2 linked regions of the Homo sapiens genome follow. The protein of the gene in region 1 interacts with the protein of each later gene in a pairwise test. Each region holds a gene or a part of one and is shown on either strand. Other genes may lie near its edges. The genes, in order: TBX3 and CA8.

Evidence for each region.
Region 2: the proteins of TBX3 (region 1) and CA8 interact in binary tests that used the Homo sapiens proteins (3 or more experiments, as listed by UniProt).

Annotation. Positions count from the first base shown.
Region 1 is NC_000012.12:114,674,012-114,681,432, forward strand, and holds part of TBX3 (T-box transcription factor TBX3), read right to left. Parts: intron 7,136-7,421; coding exon 6,868-7,135; intron 5,962-6,867; coding exon of another isoform or gene 5,902-5,961; intron 5,641-5,901; coding exon 5,494-5,640; intron 3,646-5,493; coding exon 3,569-3,645; intron 2,460-3,568; coding exon 2,302-2,459; intron 825-2,301; coding exon 154-824; intron 1-153.
Region 2 is NC_000008.11:60,278,128-60,285,920, forward strand, and holds the start of CA8 (carbonic anhydrase-related protein), read right to left. Parts: upstream 3,274-7,793; 5' UTR 3,021-3,273; coding exon 2,921-3,020; intron 1,754-2,920; coding exon 1,562-1,753; intron 1-1,561. UniProt on the Homo sapiens protein: Does not have a carbonic anhydrase catalytic activity.

The sequences.
Region 1 (7,421 bases):
ACTCCATGAGCTAAGCCTTGAACCCGGTAATGGCTCAGTAAAAATTATTACAGCTACTAGGCCAAAGGGATCGGGTGAGGGTCTGCTGGCAAAGGACAGGGAAACTGGACGAAAGGTGGAAAGACTGGTGGAGGCAGGAAGAAGGATCCATACCTGAGAGGCCAGGACGTGCTGCTGGAGGTGGAAGGGCAGGGTGGCCGCGGACGCCCCGGACAGTCCCTGCGCCGCAGCGGCAGAGGCCATGGCCGTGGAATCCAGGCCCGAGACACCGGTGGAGGCCCCAGAAACCGTGGCCAGGAGGGGACCCATGCCAGCGGCCGCCATGCTGGAGAAGGCGCCCCCCATGGCAAACTGGCTGGGGTGCAGGAAGAGCGGGTGCCCGTTGAAGAACTGTTGGCCCGCCAGGCCCGGGGCGAAGCCGAGGCCAGGCAGGGGGCCCTGGGCCAGGTGCGCGGCGGCCGCGTCCGTCTGCACCGTGAGCGGCGCGAAGGCCTCCTTGCCCGGGAGCGCGCGCGCCTCTTCCACCTTGGCCGGCGCTGTGCCCTCGCGAACCGGGCTCCTGCGCTCCTCCGCGCCCAGGCCGCGAGTGCTGGACGAGATGGTGGCGGGGCTATGGCGTGAGTCGGGCGACGCTTTGTCCAGCCGCCCGCTGTCCCGGGGCCGCTCAGCAGCGAAAAGGTGAGCCTTGACCGCGGGGCTGCCCTTGTCACGGCAGGGCTCCTCCGACGTGGTGGTGGAGATCTTGGCCGCGTCGCAGGCCTCGGGGCCATGCTCCTCTTTGCTCTCGGCCTCGGCGTCGCTCTCACCCTCGCTGGGACATAAATCTACCACAGGCGAAGGAAAAAACCAAGGCAGAAGGGCGTTATCTCCAGTATGAGCCAACGGAACTCCAGTTCCCAAGTTGGAATCCCAGCTCGTGGCTTAGTGGCTGTGTAATCCCGGGGAAAGCCCCTTAGCCTCTCTGCACCTCAGTGTTGTCATCTGCAAAATGGGGATAATCGTGCCCAACAACATTGCTGGAAAATTCAATAAGCGATTATGAATTTAAAGTATTTACCCAGAGTTTAAACTTTCCCTTAGATGGACAATCCCCTAATCAGTAGCTCTTCTTATTTTAATGAATTTTACTTCTTTTTTTGAGTTCCTACAGTGGCAGATTTCACATGCATCTCCCCATTCGATTGCAAATTAACTTTTTAAAAGTAAAAAGTAACATTAAAACTCACAGCTGGAACATATTCTAATTACTATCAAAAAATCAGTGAATGACAGAGAGCAGCACCTTCCACAAATTTGTGAATTACTCTGGAAGGATTTGTTTGGCAAGAACCCTGACATCTGAATTGATAATGGCAGAACGGACACCTGTCCTTCAACACCAGTACTCAGTTGAACCGTTTGTATTTGCCCCAGTCCCTGCAGAGAGAGATGAGTGTCGGACAGATGGCTCACAGCCCGGGGACGATCATAGATTCTTTTTTCGCTTTTACCACACCCTCTGTGGGTGTTCCACCAGAAGAAAAGAAAAAGGGATCCTATTTTATGTTTAAAGCTTAAATGGATTGAAGACATAAAGGACTTGCATTTTATTTCACTAAAAAACAGGTTTCTTCCCGTTGAGAGTGTGTGTGTGTGTGTGTGTGTGTGTGTGTGTGTGTGTGTGTCTTTCCAAATAAATACTGCTTGCTCTTTAAACACAGGTAACTGAGGGGGGATTTGAGCCATCTTGTCCACTCCTCACCCACCTCCCCCAGCTCTACCCCCACCGCAGATCCCCAGTGCTCCACCTCCTCTCCCAGGTCAATTGTTGCTTTATAGCTGGATGTTTTCTAGGCCACCTTCTCGGTTCCAGGTGGCAGAGTCCCTTGCTTCCCCCCCACCCAGTCCAACACATTGTAACCTAGAGTTCAAAGACAGTGAAAAGTCAGCAGTTGGAGCCTCTGTTGGTTGGAGAGAATGGGAGGAGAAAGAAACAGAGACAGAGAGAAAAGAGAGAAGCGCTTCAAGCAAGTTTTCAAAGCTGCTTGCCAAGAGGTAGTATGCAAACAGACACCCACCTCCCCTCCCCACCAGCCAAATAAGGATCTGGGAGAAAGGCCTCTGTGCTCTCCTTCTACTGCCTTAGCGGGGAAGGGGAGACACACCTGATAGCCCTTTTTGAACTCTGGCTTCTGTTTAAGGATGTTTAGAAGGCTTCTAGCTTTTAAAGGGCAAGTGCCCTGGTTGGTGCCCCATCCCCCTTCAACTCTTCCAGGCCACGAGGGACTGGAGTCCAGTGATCACAAAGGTGACATGGTTTACCTTTGAGGTTCGATGTCCCTACAGTGGAGGCGGCTGGAGAAGAAGCCTGGGCGAAGCAGTTGAAAGCTGCTTGTTCACTGGAGGACTCATCAGAGGTCCCATTCTCCTTTTTGTGTCTTTCATCAAACACCCTCATGGACTGCAGGGTGAGCTGTTTTCTGTGGCAGAAGCCCACACCCAGGTTACAGAATGTAACATACATTTCCCCTCTTTGTTTCCCTTACCCTTTCCAAAGCGGCACACACATACCTCACACCCTGCCTGCTGCCCAGGGACAACGCTAATTCACTGAAATCTGCTTGCCCCAGGGCAGCCACATAGACCCAAGCTTTGTCCTTGACCCTCTAACTGGGCTGAAGAGTGTGGCAGAGGGTTAGGGAGAAAGGAAGGAGGCTTCAGTTGCATTTATTCAAGATGGGGTTTCATTAGGAAAAGGCATTTGCTTGGGCTGTGAAATTTTATTTAAAAGCAGGAGAAGAGGCTGGATCTAGTCAGAGACAGCTGGACTGCCAGCCTTATATAGGGAGAACCGGGTGTCCAATCCTGCAAACACAACGCTGTCTGTCCCCAGCATACCCAAATTTTGGATGGTGGCTAAGATTGGGAGGAAGTGGTTATTTCATGCTGCACTTTACTGTAATCGTTTTACTAACAAATTAATTGGAATAAAAATATATTTAGCTGTTAGCAATTATTTTTTAATGCCCGCCCCAAGGGGATAGGTTAAAAATTTGGGGGTGATTTTCTGGATTTTAGAAATTCTTTGAAAGGGGGTGGGGGAGGGGAGACCCTCTTTCATATACTCTCCAGCTGTCTACGTAATGCAAAATGATACATGTCCCCACGAAGGAGGGAGAGAGCCATACATCTTTCCGAAGTCCCCAGCTCTGTCTGATGGTATTTGGAAGACAGGATTGCAAAAATTCCCAAGTATTTTCTCAATGGCATGGTTCTTTCTGGGACCTGCCTAGGATGAACTTAAATTAATTAGGAATTAATAGGCATCCCTGTATAATCTATTATCCCTGATGCTTCTCTTCCAGAGATAAGTATGGTGTAGCCTAGTTAATTTCCTTAAAGGTAAGGAGGTAGGAAAAGTACTTGTCCTGGGTATACTGATAGCGGCAAGCATGTAGCAGTGGGGAAAGTGAATGATTTCCACCCGCTCTTAGGATAAGTGCCTGCATCTCACTTCTAACACTTCAGAGTTGGATCCTAAAAAAAGGGATTTTTCTAAACTATCTAATAAATAATTGTTTCAACTCACCTTTTTTCTCTTCGGCCATTTCCAGTGTCCCGGAAACCTTTTGCAAAAGGGTTGTTGTCTATTTTTAACTGGGTTATCTATTGGAAGAGACACAAGCAAGACAGAGACATTGTTCTCATTTTCTAGAATGTTTTGAGGGTGTTTTTCCCAACTCAACAAGTCTAGAGATGTGACTGCCAACAGAAGTCATATAGATATGCCAGGGAAAGGAGATAATAAGGAAACTGTGGCAGGGCTTGTATCTCCTATATGAGGCCAAACCAGGGATTTGGGGATGAAATTATTCAAAGAAATTCTTTTCTTTGGGCAGCCAACAGTTTGGGTTTAGACATGGAAGTGTTGTCAAAGTCATCAAGAGGGAAAACCTGTAGATCTTAAAATTATGCTTTCATTTTGATTTTTATACAGTGCAATTAATCATAAATTATAGCATACTCCCTTCACACACACACACACACACACACACACACACACACACTCCTTTTCCATGAATCCAATAAATGATTTATGGGGTTTCACTACCCTTGTGCGGGAGTGAGTGCGGGAGTGAGTTTAATTTTTTTTTTCTTTGCCTGGGGGGTGGTTTGAGGAAATTACAATATTGACAGTTACAGTACTGAATGACCACTGGAAACATCTGTTTTCATTTATATGCTCTGCCATGGCCATTAGGTGGAGAAGGCCCATGGCCTTTTTGTCTGATCAAAAATGCTACATTTTATTATTACATTAACAACTTCATTTCACAGGATTCTGGGTCTAGAGGGCACATGCATTTTGCACTTTGAGAAAAATGCTATAGTGTGTAATCTTTCAAATCCCTTCCCCTTGGTGGGAAGAAGAAGTTATATACACAGAGTTACTCAGAGGTGGAAAGGGGGACCCTTGGTTGGATTCATGTTCTTGGAATAAATTGCTCTATTGAAGACTTCAGGTTTCACAGGGAGAGAAGATCATGTTTTGGTATTCACACTAAAGAAATTTAGCTGGAACATCCCCATCATGAAGTCCACAGAGGACCCAAGGACAGTGACAATGACAGTGAGTTCAAAATGAAGTGTGTTGTCAGGTAAAATGGACTCTCTTTGAAGTCCAGGATTGCAGAGCAGGGGTCTTCAGTCCCTCCTCCCACCCCATAACTGCTAACAGCCAATCTGGGAACTGGTGAATCAGCAGTAAGGGTCACTTTTTCTGTGCCCATGACCTTCAGGCCACCATAGCTCTAGATATCAGGTGCTTTCCCTTTTGGGGATCCTTCTAACCTCCAGATTCAGGCCTGGGGGAGGGGGGGAATTCAAATGAAGTGGTGACTTTGGCCACCCCAACTCAAAAGCCTCAGACAACTCGATTAATATGACCCTGTGATCAGGGTAGGTTTTTCCAACCACACGCATGCATGCACACACATGCACACACACACACACATCATAACACAGCAGCATAAAAGGTAATAAAAACCAGACCAGCTACTCAGGATTTCTGGCTAGGGGAGAAAAGCTGGTCTCTACTAGGATTCTCCTCCCAGGATCCCAAATGGCTTTTGCCTTAAATTTTTAGCTGGTTCCTTTTGAATGTGACTTCTTGATCCTTCTTCCCCAAGGGGAAGAAGATGAACCTTAAAACAGACAGGACAAAGCCCAAGAGGGGGGGAGGAGTGGGTGGCATCAATGACAGCAGTTCTAGGAGTTTCTCTGTGGCAAAATTAGTATGGCGTTTTTTTGCTCAGCATTGTTCCTACCTAGTCAAGGTGTTTTTCTGTCTCCTCGAGGTGTCATTGTCCTTTCCCCCCAAATGCTCCACAAATCACAAAAGACAACTCAAGACTCTCGTCTCCACTCTCTTGTAACTTTCTCATCCTGACTTAAAGCAGCTTTTAAGGGGAAGGCAAAATATCACCATTAAAAAGGAAAGCCCCTTGAGTTTACCTTATCATTCTGGTATGCAGTCACAGCGATGAATTCAGTTTCGGGGAACAAGTATGTCCGAAATGTACTATAAGGGAGTTTCAAGATGTCATTGGCTCTTACAATGTGGAACCGGGGCTGGTATTTGTGCATGGAGTTCAATATAGTCTGCAGGGGCAGGGAAGAGGAGACATACATAAAACAAGGATTTAGCAGAACAAACGGGATCTTAGGACCCCTGCCAGGCTGAAATCTTCCCCACCGCAGGGTACCACGCTTGTACCGAGCCCACCTCCTTGGAGTACCCCCTGGGTACGTTTCGCTCCACAGATGTTATCTTCTGGAGAATCCAAATTGCTCCTCAGTTGCCAAAGGGCCCCCCCCACCCTCACCATCTAAGGATCATTCATACCTTGAACCCTAGCCTACCTGAGTACCAAAACTATAATTCCCCTGCCACGTAGCGTGATCACTTGGGAAGGCCAAAGTCTTAAAAGATAGAGAAAAACATGCATTTTAATTTACAAAATGATTCAGTACTTTAAGCGCCCACTAATTGACGAGCCCAATCCACTTAAAGCCCTGAAAGGCTGAACTCTAGAGAGGAATATTTATGCCTTAATCAAATCAAGGGCTTCAAATGCAATTCCTGCCCGCTGAAGATATTTCCGCGCCATTCGCGTCTTCCTGGGCCTAATCTTTCTGCTTACTCCTTGCTTATCACGCTGTTTATTTTATTGAAATGTTGGGGAGGGGTAGGAAAAGGCGCAAAAGGTCCTTTGCCTGATATCTACAAGCAATGAAAGTTTTCTAAGTTTCTAAGCACTGTCACTGAATCCATATATACACTCCCAACACACAAACCATTTTTTTCTGAAGATCTAAGCCTCATTTAGGGTAAGCCGGACTCCCACCTAAGCCCAATTCTTTTTTTAGTAAAAGAACGAGTTTTTAAAAATGTATTCACACCATTTAACCAACAGAGTCAAGGCTCCGAAACGTAAACTCTCCTGAGAAAATAATATCACTGGTTTCAAAACAGAAGTATGATATTTTAAAACAAAACAAATCCTTTAGGAATACATAGCCTTGAAATTGATTTTAGCTCTTAAAAAATGGTTTTTAACTTCACTCTCAGGTCAGGAATCTACCAAAGAGCTGGAATTGCTATAGAACACAAGCCGGTAAGTTTTCTTGCCCCATTTCTTTTAGAACGCCAGGCCTTCCATTATTTGGAGAGAAACACCCCGAATCCTTTTTCCAGACGAGGACAAGTTTGCTATGCTTAGGGAGAAGCAAAGGAGAAGTCTGGGCTGAAACTCATGAAATGGGAAGCACTGCCTTTGACTGAGTGAAGGAGGAGAAAATTTTACTGAAGAGAGCAATGAAACTTACAAATCCATGTTTGTCTGAAATGTTGTTGGTGAGTTTCAGTTTGTGGAAAGTGACGACTTTGGACATCCACTGTTCCCCAGTAGCGGGGCTGTCCGGGTGAATGTACATCCTCTTTGGCATTTCGGGGTCGGCCTTACCAGCCACCATCCACCGAGAATTGTGAAATTTATAACGACAGTCATCAGCAGCTATAATGTCCATCAATAAAATGTATTTGGCTTTTTTATCCAGCCCAGAACATCTCACTTTAAATGGAGGAAACATTCGCCTATAAAACGAAAGAATAGAAAAGAAAAAGAAAGATAAACCACCCGTAATCTTGGGTTTGATTTCCTATGTATCACATAATATTGAAACCAAGTCTAAGACTTTATATTGTGACTGATAAGCTTACATGTTTCAGAGTGAGGCAACTGGTTGCAAAATCGTTTTCTTCCACAACTAACGTATTAAATATTCTCAGTTTCGCCATATTTAGACGTCCCAAGGTTCAAAACAAATGCATTGTGGCACTGCAATTCTCTACATTGTCTAACAATTTCTTCAATATTTTT
Region 2 (7,793 bases), on another chromosome or scaffold:
TGTTTGAGAAGGTAGCAGAAGAAAATGGTAAGTTCAAATTGATGAAGTAAATTTTATCTCAGAGCAGGACTAGGCACACACAGATGCAGTGGAGTATATGTGCTTAGTCATTGCTCTCTGCTCCCACAACCCTTTGTAACACTTGCCACATCAAGTGTACACTAGTACTTTAAAGAACTGGCTTTTCACTAGGCTATGAATCCTCAAGAACTGTCTTATAAATTTATATGCAACCAATATTGATCATGGCACCTGACATGAAATGTATTTTTGTTTTGTGGATATATAAACATTTATTTCCGGAAGTTCAAAGCATCTCAACACATCAACACACATGTACTTCTTTAAATTGCTTTTTATATGCCAGAACAGTCAGCATTCAATAATTTTACAATATCCTTTAAAAAACAGTAAGTAATGTCCCATCAAAGCTAAACCCACACCCCCAAAAAAATTCAAGTCGAAATTTCCATCTTAAACTGACTCTGACTAAGTACATATAAAGCCCAGTAACTCTTTTGGGCAATGCTCACATGCTGACTAAACTCAGAACAGCGAAGGAGACTACATGAATCTATGACTATCTCATGGATTCTAAATTAAAGCTTAGAAACATTTACAATGAATAAAATAAATCCATAGCTGGAAATCAACAGCTGCCTTGATTAATAACAAACCTAAAGATTTTATAGTTTGAGGTATCAACTTTATCAACTTGGAATTAATTTTCGAGCACAGTCTCTATTTATCAAGTACGTCCTAATATTTCAACATACTTTAATTTTTCCCAAAAGAAAAAGACAGTTATTATTCACTATGAAATGCATGCTATTAATGCTACATTTTTTAAAAATCTGATTTCCTCTTTCCTACGATAAAGCCAAAAACTGATTTCCTTGGTAATTACCTAACAACTTTTGCACAGAACATTTCAGATCCATCTCAAATAGGTTTGCAAGTGGTAGGAGAAGTTTCATGGGATGGAACTTAAATAAATAAATAAATAAATAAATAAAAGGAAGAGGTTTGTTTACCATTTAAATCTCTGGCTGAGTTTAGAGGCTGTTTCTTATTGTTATTAGTTAAAATTATTTTTGGCAAACTAATACAGTAGAGAAAATTAACCTGAGAAGTCTACCTTGAATGCCACGTTATGTCAATAAATTCTAATCTTTGGTTTCACAAAGTAGCAAAACAGAGAATTATGATTATCTAAGTGATTTAAGCTAATCAACAATTTTGGACAAAACGCAGATTACTGCACCTGCATGTACCTGTCCTCATATTTCACAAGGTATAAGGTGATCAAACTAAGGTTTTTCCAGTAACATCATAAGAAGCAGAACAACCGACTGATAATCTTCATAATTTCACTCTTTTGTCCTTTCAAAATTGTTTCAGAAGGTAATTCCCAAAAATGCTTTATATTATAATACAAAGGTATCCTGAAAATAGAGATACGTCAGTTGTACTTTTTAAATTGTGCAAGTTAAATCACAGTTCAATAACTCTACGCTGACTTCTAGTTTAAAAGACCACACAAACATATTTTCTAAAATACCTGATTTTGACTTCAGGATAACCTGAATGGTATGTCCATCATTGGTGACTTCACAGTCTCGGCACACCACATAATTTGGGGAGAGGCGGACATCCAACAGCGAGGGGTCATACCTAGCCTCTCTTGAGTTTAGGTTAATAGGAGACTGGTATTCCCCATTAGCATCAGGAAACACCAGACCCCACTCAACACCTAAGAACAAAATGAAATAAATTAAAAACAGGTTAAAAAATAAATTACAGTAAAATTTAACATGTAAAAACTAAACACTTAGAACCCTTGATATCATGAAGAGAGTAATGATACCATCACTATACAGATGAAATATGGTAATTCTATTTGTTTTTGCATTCATTATTTGAATGATCTGTTATTATCAAATACCATACACAAAATCCCGGACTAGCAAAATATTCTATTTGTATTTGTCAACAAAGACATAATAATTTATGATTCTAGGAAATTTGGGTCATTTTTAAGTGATTAGGAAAAAAGAATACCAGAACAATTTCTTCTGCTTATTAGTTCAATTACGTTCAGTACCTGGGAAACAGCTGTAACTTTCAACATACTTAGTGACAGTCAGAACCCTAACTCTCATGCTAGTAAATAGACGCCCCTTATCAGAAATGCAAGTGTAGTATTTTAAAGTGTGCATATGTATATATCTGTGTACATACATATTCCCATAGTCTTTCCAAATTTTTTATAATTAAAATTATATATTCTATATTGGTTTCAACATATGTAGTAAACATCAGCACTACTGGTTGGCTCTAATAGGAGCCCTAGGTCTTTAGGAATAAATCTAGGAAACTCGAGTTTTTCAGAAAGTCAACCGCTTCTCGCCAAACCCAATGATTCAGTCTGAAATTTAGGACATGTTTTAGAAAGACTTGAGCATTGCTAGCAGGCTTCACGAAAAGACCAGAGGCAGAAACACTTTCTCCCCAAAGTCTCCAAGCCAAAAACGAATTCTTCACGCTAACACTGTCTTCCTCAGGTGTTTAGTAAAATGTACCGCTGCTCTTCTTGACTACTCAGAAGACATAAAAGGTACAGCCACGGCTTGGAGGCTAGCCCGCCCTCCGGACCGCAGCAGGTGCGAACGCCAGCCCTGCGGAAGGCTCCCGGGTGAGAGCGCAGGCGGCGGAAGAGCGCAGGCGGCGAGCACGCCTCCCTGGAGCGCCTCCCGCCCGAAACGCACCAGGGGAGTGGGAAAGTGGCAGAGACCCCCGTGGGAAAGAGGGGGCGTGGGGGTGCTCGGAGCGCGCAGCGGCAGCAGGACTCGAGTCCCGCGCTCGGCGAGACACTGACGCCGCCGCGGGACCCCGGACACCCCGACTCGCGGCCACTTACCTTCCTCGTAGCCCCACTCCACACCCTCCTCTTCTTCCTCCTCATCCTCTTCCTTCTCGGGGAAGGCGACGGTATCTTCGATGAAGCTCAGGTCCGCCATGGGAAGGCCGCGGGGCCCCTCGGCGCTCTCGGCAGCAGTGCCTGCGCCTTCGCTGGGCGCGGGGCTGGAGCCGGAGCGGAGCGCGCGTGGGGGAGTGTGAGCACGCGTGAGCGGCAGTGTGAGTGCGAGAGCGCCTCCGGGTGTGAACCGCAGTGTGAGTGCAAGCAGGCGTGCGTTCGGACCGAGTGTTCCAGAGACCCGCGTGGGAAGCGCGTCCGGAGGCCCCAGCAGAGCGAGGGAGCGGCTGTGGCCTGGGGAGCGAGCGCCTGGCGAATTTTATACCCGACCGGGGCGTGTCTGGTACGCGAGGATCCGCCCCCTTCTCTCTCTGGCCGTTGGGGCCAGGGGAGCCGACAGTTAGAATGCGCCTCGGGGCGACTAGTCCCAAGTCACGGAAACCTCGGCGCATCCCCGCCCGCCCTTCCCCCGGGGTCGCCCCCGCCGCCTCCTGGCGCTTCCTCGCTGCGGCGACTCCTGCTTGGCCGCCCGAGCCTTCCTTCCAGAAGCCCGCAAGTCTCCCAAGGTCACTCGGGACCCCTGTGTGCCTGGCCTAGCCCAGAGGCTGCTCACCTATTCATTTTCATCCGTACTCCAGGAAATACCAAAAAGAAGGGGTCCTGGAGGAGAGAGATGGGCTGCCGTGGGTAGGAGAAAGGAGAGGGCTAGGAGACCCCGTAACACAATAAAAAGAGACTCTCCAGCGGAATCTTCTTAGTATCTTCTGAGTATTTACTTTTTAAATCGTCCGTTCAGCGCAGTGGAAACGAGTTTGGAAATTTTTCCAAGAAAGTTCTATTAATTCCTAAAAACGTTTAAGAAAAGAAAATGGTTGTTATCTAGAGAAGTAGCTATGATTTAGGGTTGTGTTTTTTTTTTTTTTTTTTCCAGAAAAGGGTATTGTTTCAAAGCAGGGCTAGCAGAAGGCAGTAGACAGAGGGTGTTCGCTGTCAGAGTCTGGGGCGCTGCTGCAGGCTCACCTGGCTGTGTACACAGCTCCCATTCACCTAGTGAAATCGTGTAAATAATGAAGTGCACACATTGCATAACAAACAGGAACTCTTCTGATCCAAAGAGGTGGCATTGTTACCCTTAAACGTGCTTCTCAGTCTAGTGTTAACGACTTCAGCCCTCTGTTCCTGTGCCTTTTAAAAGCCCTGGTCAGTAACCCCTAAGTAGGTTAACTCCACATTTTTAGAAGATATATGTGCACAATAAACTCGAGTTAGGACCTTAAGTACAATTTGTTTTTTATATGCTCTGGTCATTCATGAAGATATCTATTTGCACTTTGAATAACCTGTTCCTAAATCACACCAGCCTTATGAATGCATAATTCCTCAAATAAGGATGGAAATGATCCGTTTGGGAATGTTTAGTTTCAGTGCTCATATCCTTTACTGCCTGCTAAGCACCTCCACTTTTTAAAAAGACACTTCATAGCTTTTAAAAAAAAAAAATTACAAACTGCTCCAGAAAGTACACTGAGATGGAAAGAAGTGGGGGGAACCCTCAACTCGCTCAATTCTGCCACTTTCTGGAAGGTTTAACCAAATATATGGAAAACTACTGGCCAACATTAGCTTGGAGGATAACCGGTGGATTTTAAGCATTCATATAATTTCTCTTTTCCTTAACTGTGCAGAGGACTGAAACAGTTTGAGAAACTAAATTCATTTTTCACTCACTGCATTCTGGGTGTTCTTTAGTGGACGGTCGTTTGCATCTTTGCAAGCCTGGGACTGGCAGAAGCAGAAGCCTACCCCAAAGCCAGAGCTATTAAAAATAATAAGCACTACTGAAAATATTAACTACTTTTCACTGAAGGTCTTCTAAAAGGAACATTTATTTTTCCTTTCTTGAAAACTTTTTTGTAATCTTCTATTTGTTTTAAGTTTCTTTTTAGAAGTATGTTCACACGTTAATTAAATGCCACAGCTAAGGAAGCCCATACAAAGGCTATGAAGGAATTGGATAATAAAAGCACTGCCACTCTGAGCTCATCAGCAATGGCCTTTCTCCTCTGTCCCCCAAATGTGCCTAAGTATGACATTGTAGCCATTGTGTGACCACCAACTGTGTTTAAAATATCAGGTGAATCATAGAGATGTTTATCAAACCAGAGGATGGTACAATCACCATGGTAAAAAACTGAATTTTCCATGAATAAATACTGTGCCATATTTACAAAAGATAGGCTGAAAGATTGAATTATTAGTATTTACTTTTACAGTAAAAAGACAATTTTGCATATAGCCAGCAATGTATTACTATTCAAATATGCAGTTGACTACTAGCATTGGCCTATATTTGCTCCTTCTGAATTGTTCATGATTATTTGTAGAATGTAACTCCTGTATGCAAGCCTAGGGTTCCCTGTCCAGCCACATATGAGCCAATCCTCTAAGCACCCAAATATTCAATTAACAGCCTTAATTGCTTTGAGACTGTGGGGTTCAGATTTTTGCTAATTAACAGCACCTTAAGACCTTCTCTTCTCAGGTCCCTGCACTATATTACCACCAAAGATGGAATTTCTATTTCTAGTTATTATAAGGTGTCTGTCACTAAAAAAATCTAAACACACAGATCAAAGATATAGGGCAATTCTTTGTTTTACAAAATAGAACAAGCACATCTAAATCCAATACCAGAGAATCTAAAAATATTCATACTCTGTATTATGAATGTGTCTTCCACATATTCCTCTATAATTTTTAATAGGCTTTCAGCCTAATATTATATTTGATCCCTTAAATTAACTTTATATTGCTCACATTTAGTGCTTGCATAGCTAAGACCAAACCATATTAGTAGAACAATTTATTAAAACTAAGACCTATATAACTAACTACCATTTGATACTAAGAGAATATAAATAGAAATATCTAAAAGGGACAAACTAATCTAGATGTCAGAGGAACCAAAGTACTAAGGTCGCTTCCCAGAGTCCACAACCTAGACAGCCCGCTCCTGTCTTTCCTCACTGCTTGTCTACCGTACCAAAGCTTTCTTATTGTATCGGTGAGTCTAGGCCCTAGAGTCATAAATTTGACCTCCTCTTATGTGCATCTTATGCTCTGGGATCACCTCAAGGGTACAGCTAACATATGCATGTCACGTGGCTCCTATACAAACTGTAATTCATAAACTTCAACAGCAATGAATTGGGTTCCTTCATGTGCGCTGCTCTGGACTAGGCACTGTGGGAGAACCAAAAATAAAAAATAAAATACTTCTTCTGCTCTCAAGGAACTCATGGTTCTCTGGAGGGAGGAGAGGGGTAAATAATTATAATACAAGGCAATACGCAATATTAATATGTTAAATAGAAATGCAGGTACCACTACATCTAAGGAAGATGGAATTTTCATACTAATGGGAATGATTTAGAAAAGTTGAACAAGATGGCATTTGGGGCAAACTAGAGGAAATGGGCAGAGTTTGGGTGGGCAGCATGTGAGCAAATAACATTCCAGGTGTGAACAAAGATGCCGAATCATGCAAGTGCTCATTGCGGATCTATTTGCTCCCTTAAATGCCATCTGTGACTGCCAAAACCAATTCAGATACACTAAAAATAAGCACTTCTCTAGGCTTATGTCTCAGGTAAGGCACTTTTTCCTATGGTTGTTTAATTCCTTATGTCTAGTTTTTCTTTTGTCAGGAAAGACAGCAAAATTTTCTTCATTATATATATTTTGATTTCTGAAGGTTTCAAACTTTGTTGATAAAAAAATTTACTTCTTCCTTTTAAATTACTTTTTTCAACTGATTAATCTTTTATTTCACCTGCTTAAAGTTACATTTACGAGCCTCCTTTTTTTTGACCTCTTCTTGGTCTTTTATCTTCAGAAACAAACGACTAGGGCTCCATGTAGTCATTGGAGATGACATCATTGTCTCTATCATTTGCTGCCCCTTCACTGCTTGACCATGTGACTTCTTTGACGAATTAAATATGAGTAGAGGTGGCACGTGCCATTTCCTAGAAGAAAGATTTAGGCGTTATCAAAAACAGACATAGTAGCCCATCAAGTAAAGGTGAGTTCAAGGATAATTTTTATTTGCTCAAATGCTGTTTTTGCCTTTATCTTTTTCTTCAAAGAAAAAAAAAAAGTATCTCTGGCCTGCAAAGAAACCAAACAGTCTAGTACAGTGCTCTTATCTTCACCTCACCAATTTCTTGGACGCCCTAACCCCAGCTAGGGCCCTTACCACTTCATGGCAGAATGAGAAAGCCCTTATCCATAGAAAATCCCCATCTTCTCTAAGGAACATGGACCGCAGCTCTCTTCCCCTCTCTCAGACCATGCGAATTATGCCTGAGGCCCTACATGAATTCAGCACCAAAATGACTTATGCTGAAATAGGAATATTTAAGATAATTACATTGGTGACTCCCAAGTCACCAAAAGCTCTAGGGCACCTTCTGCCAAACAAAACCCCTTATGTGTTTAAGCCACAGAGGTTAAAGTTACCTCTTCTTAGTGCTTTCACAATGCCCTGTATAGATCTCTAACCCTGAAGTTAAGATTGTATTTTAAATATGTATTTTATGACCTTCTCCTCTAAACAATGAGCTCCCAAAGAGCAAGGCACTAGGCACTGTGGGAGAACCAAAAAAAAAAGGAATAAAATACTGCTTCTGCTCTCGAGAAATTCACAGTTCTCTGGGGGAGGAGAGGAGTAAATAATTATAATTATTAAAACTATAATACAAGTAAATAATTATAACTATAATACAAGTAAATAATGATAATACAAGAAATATGT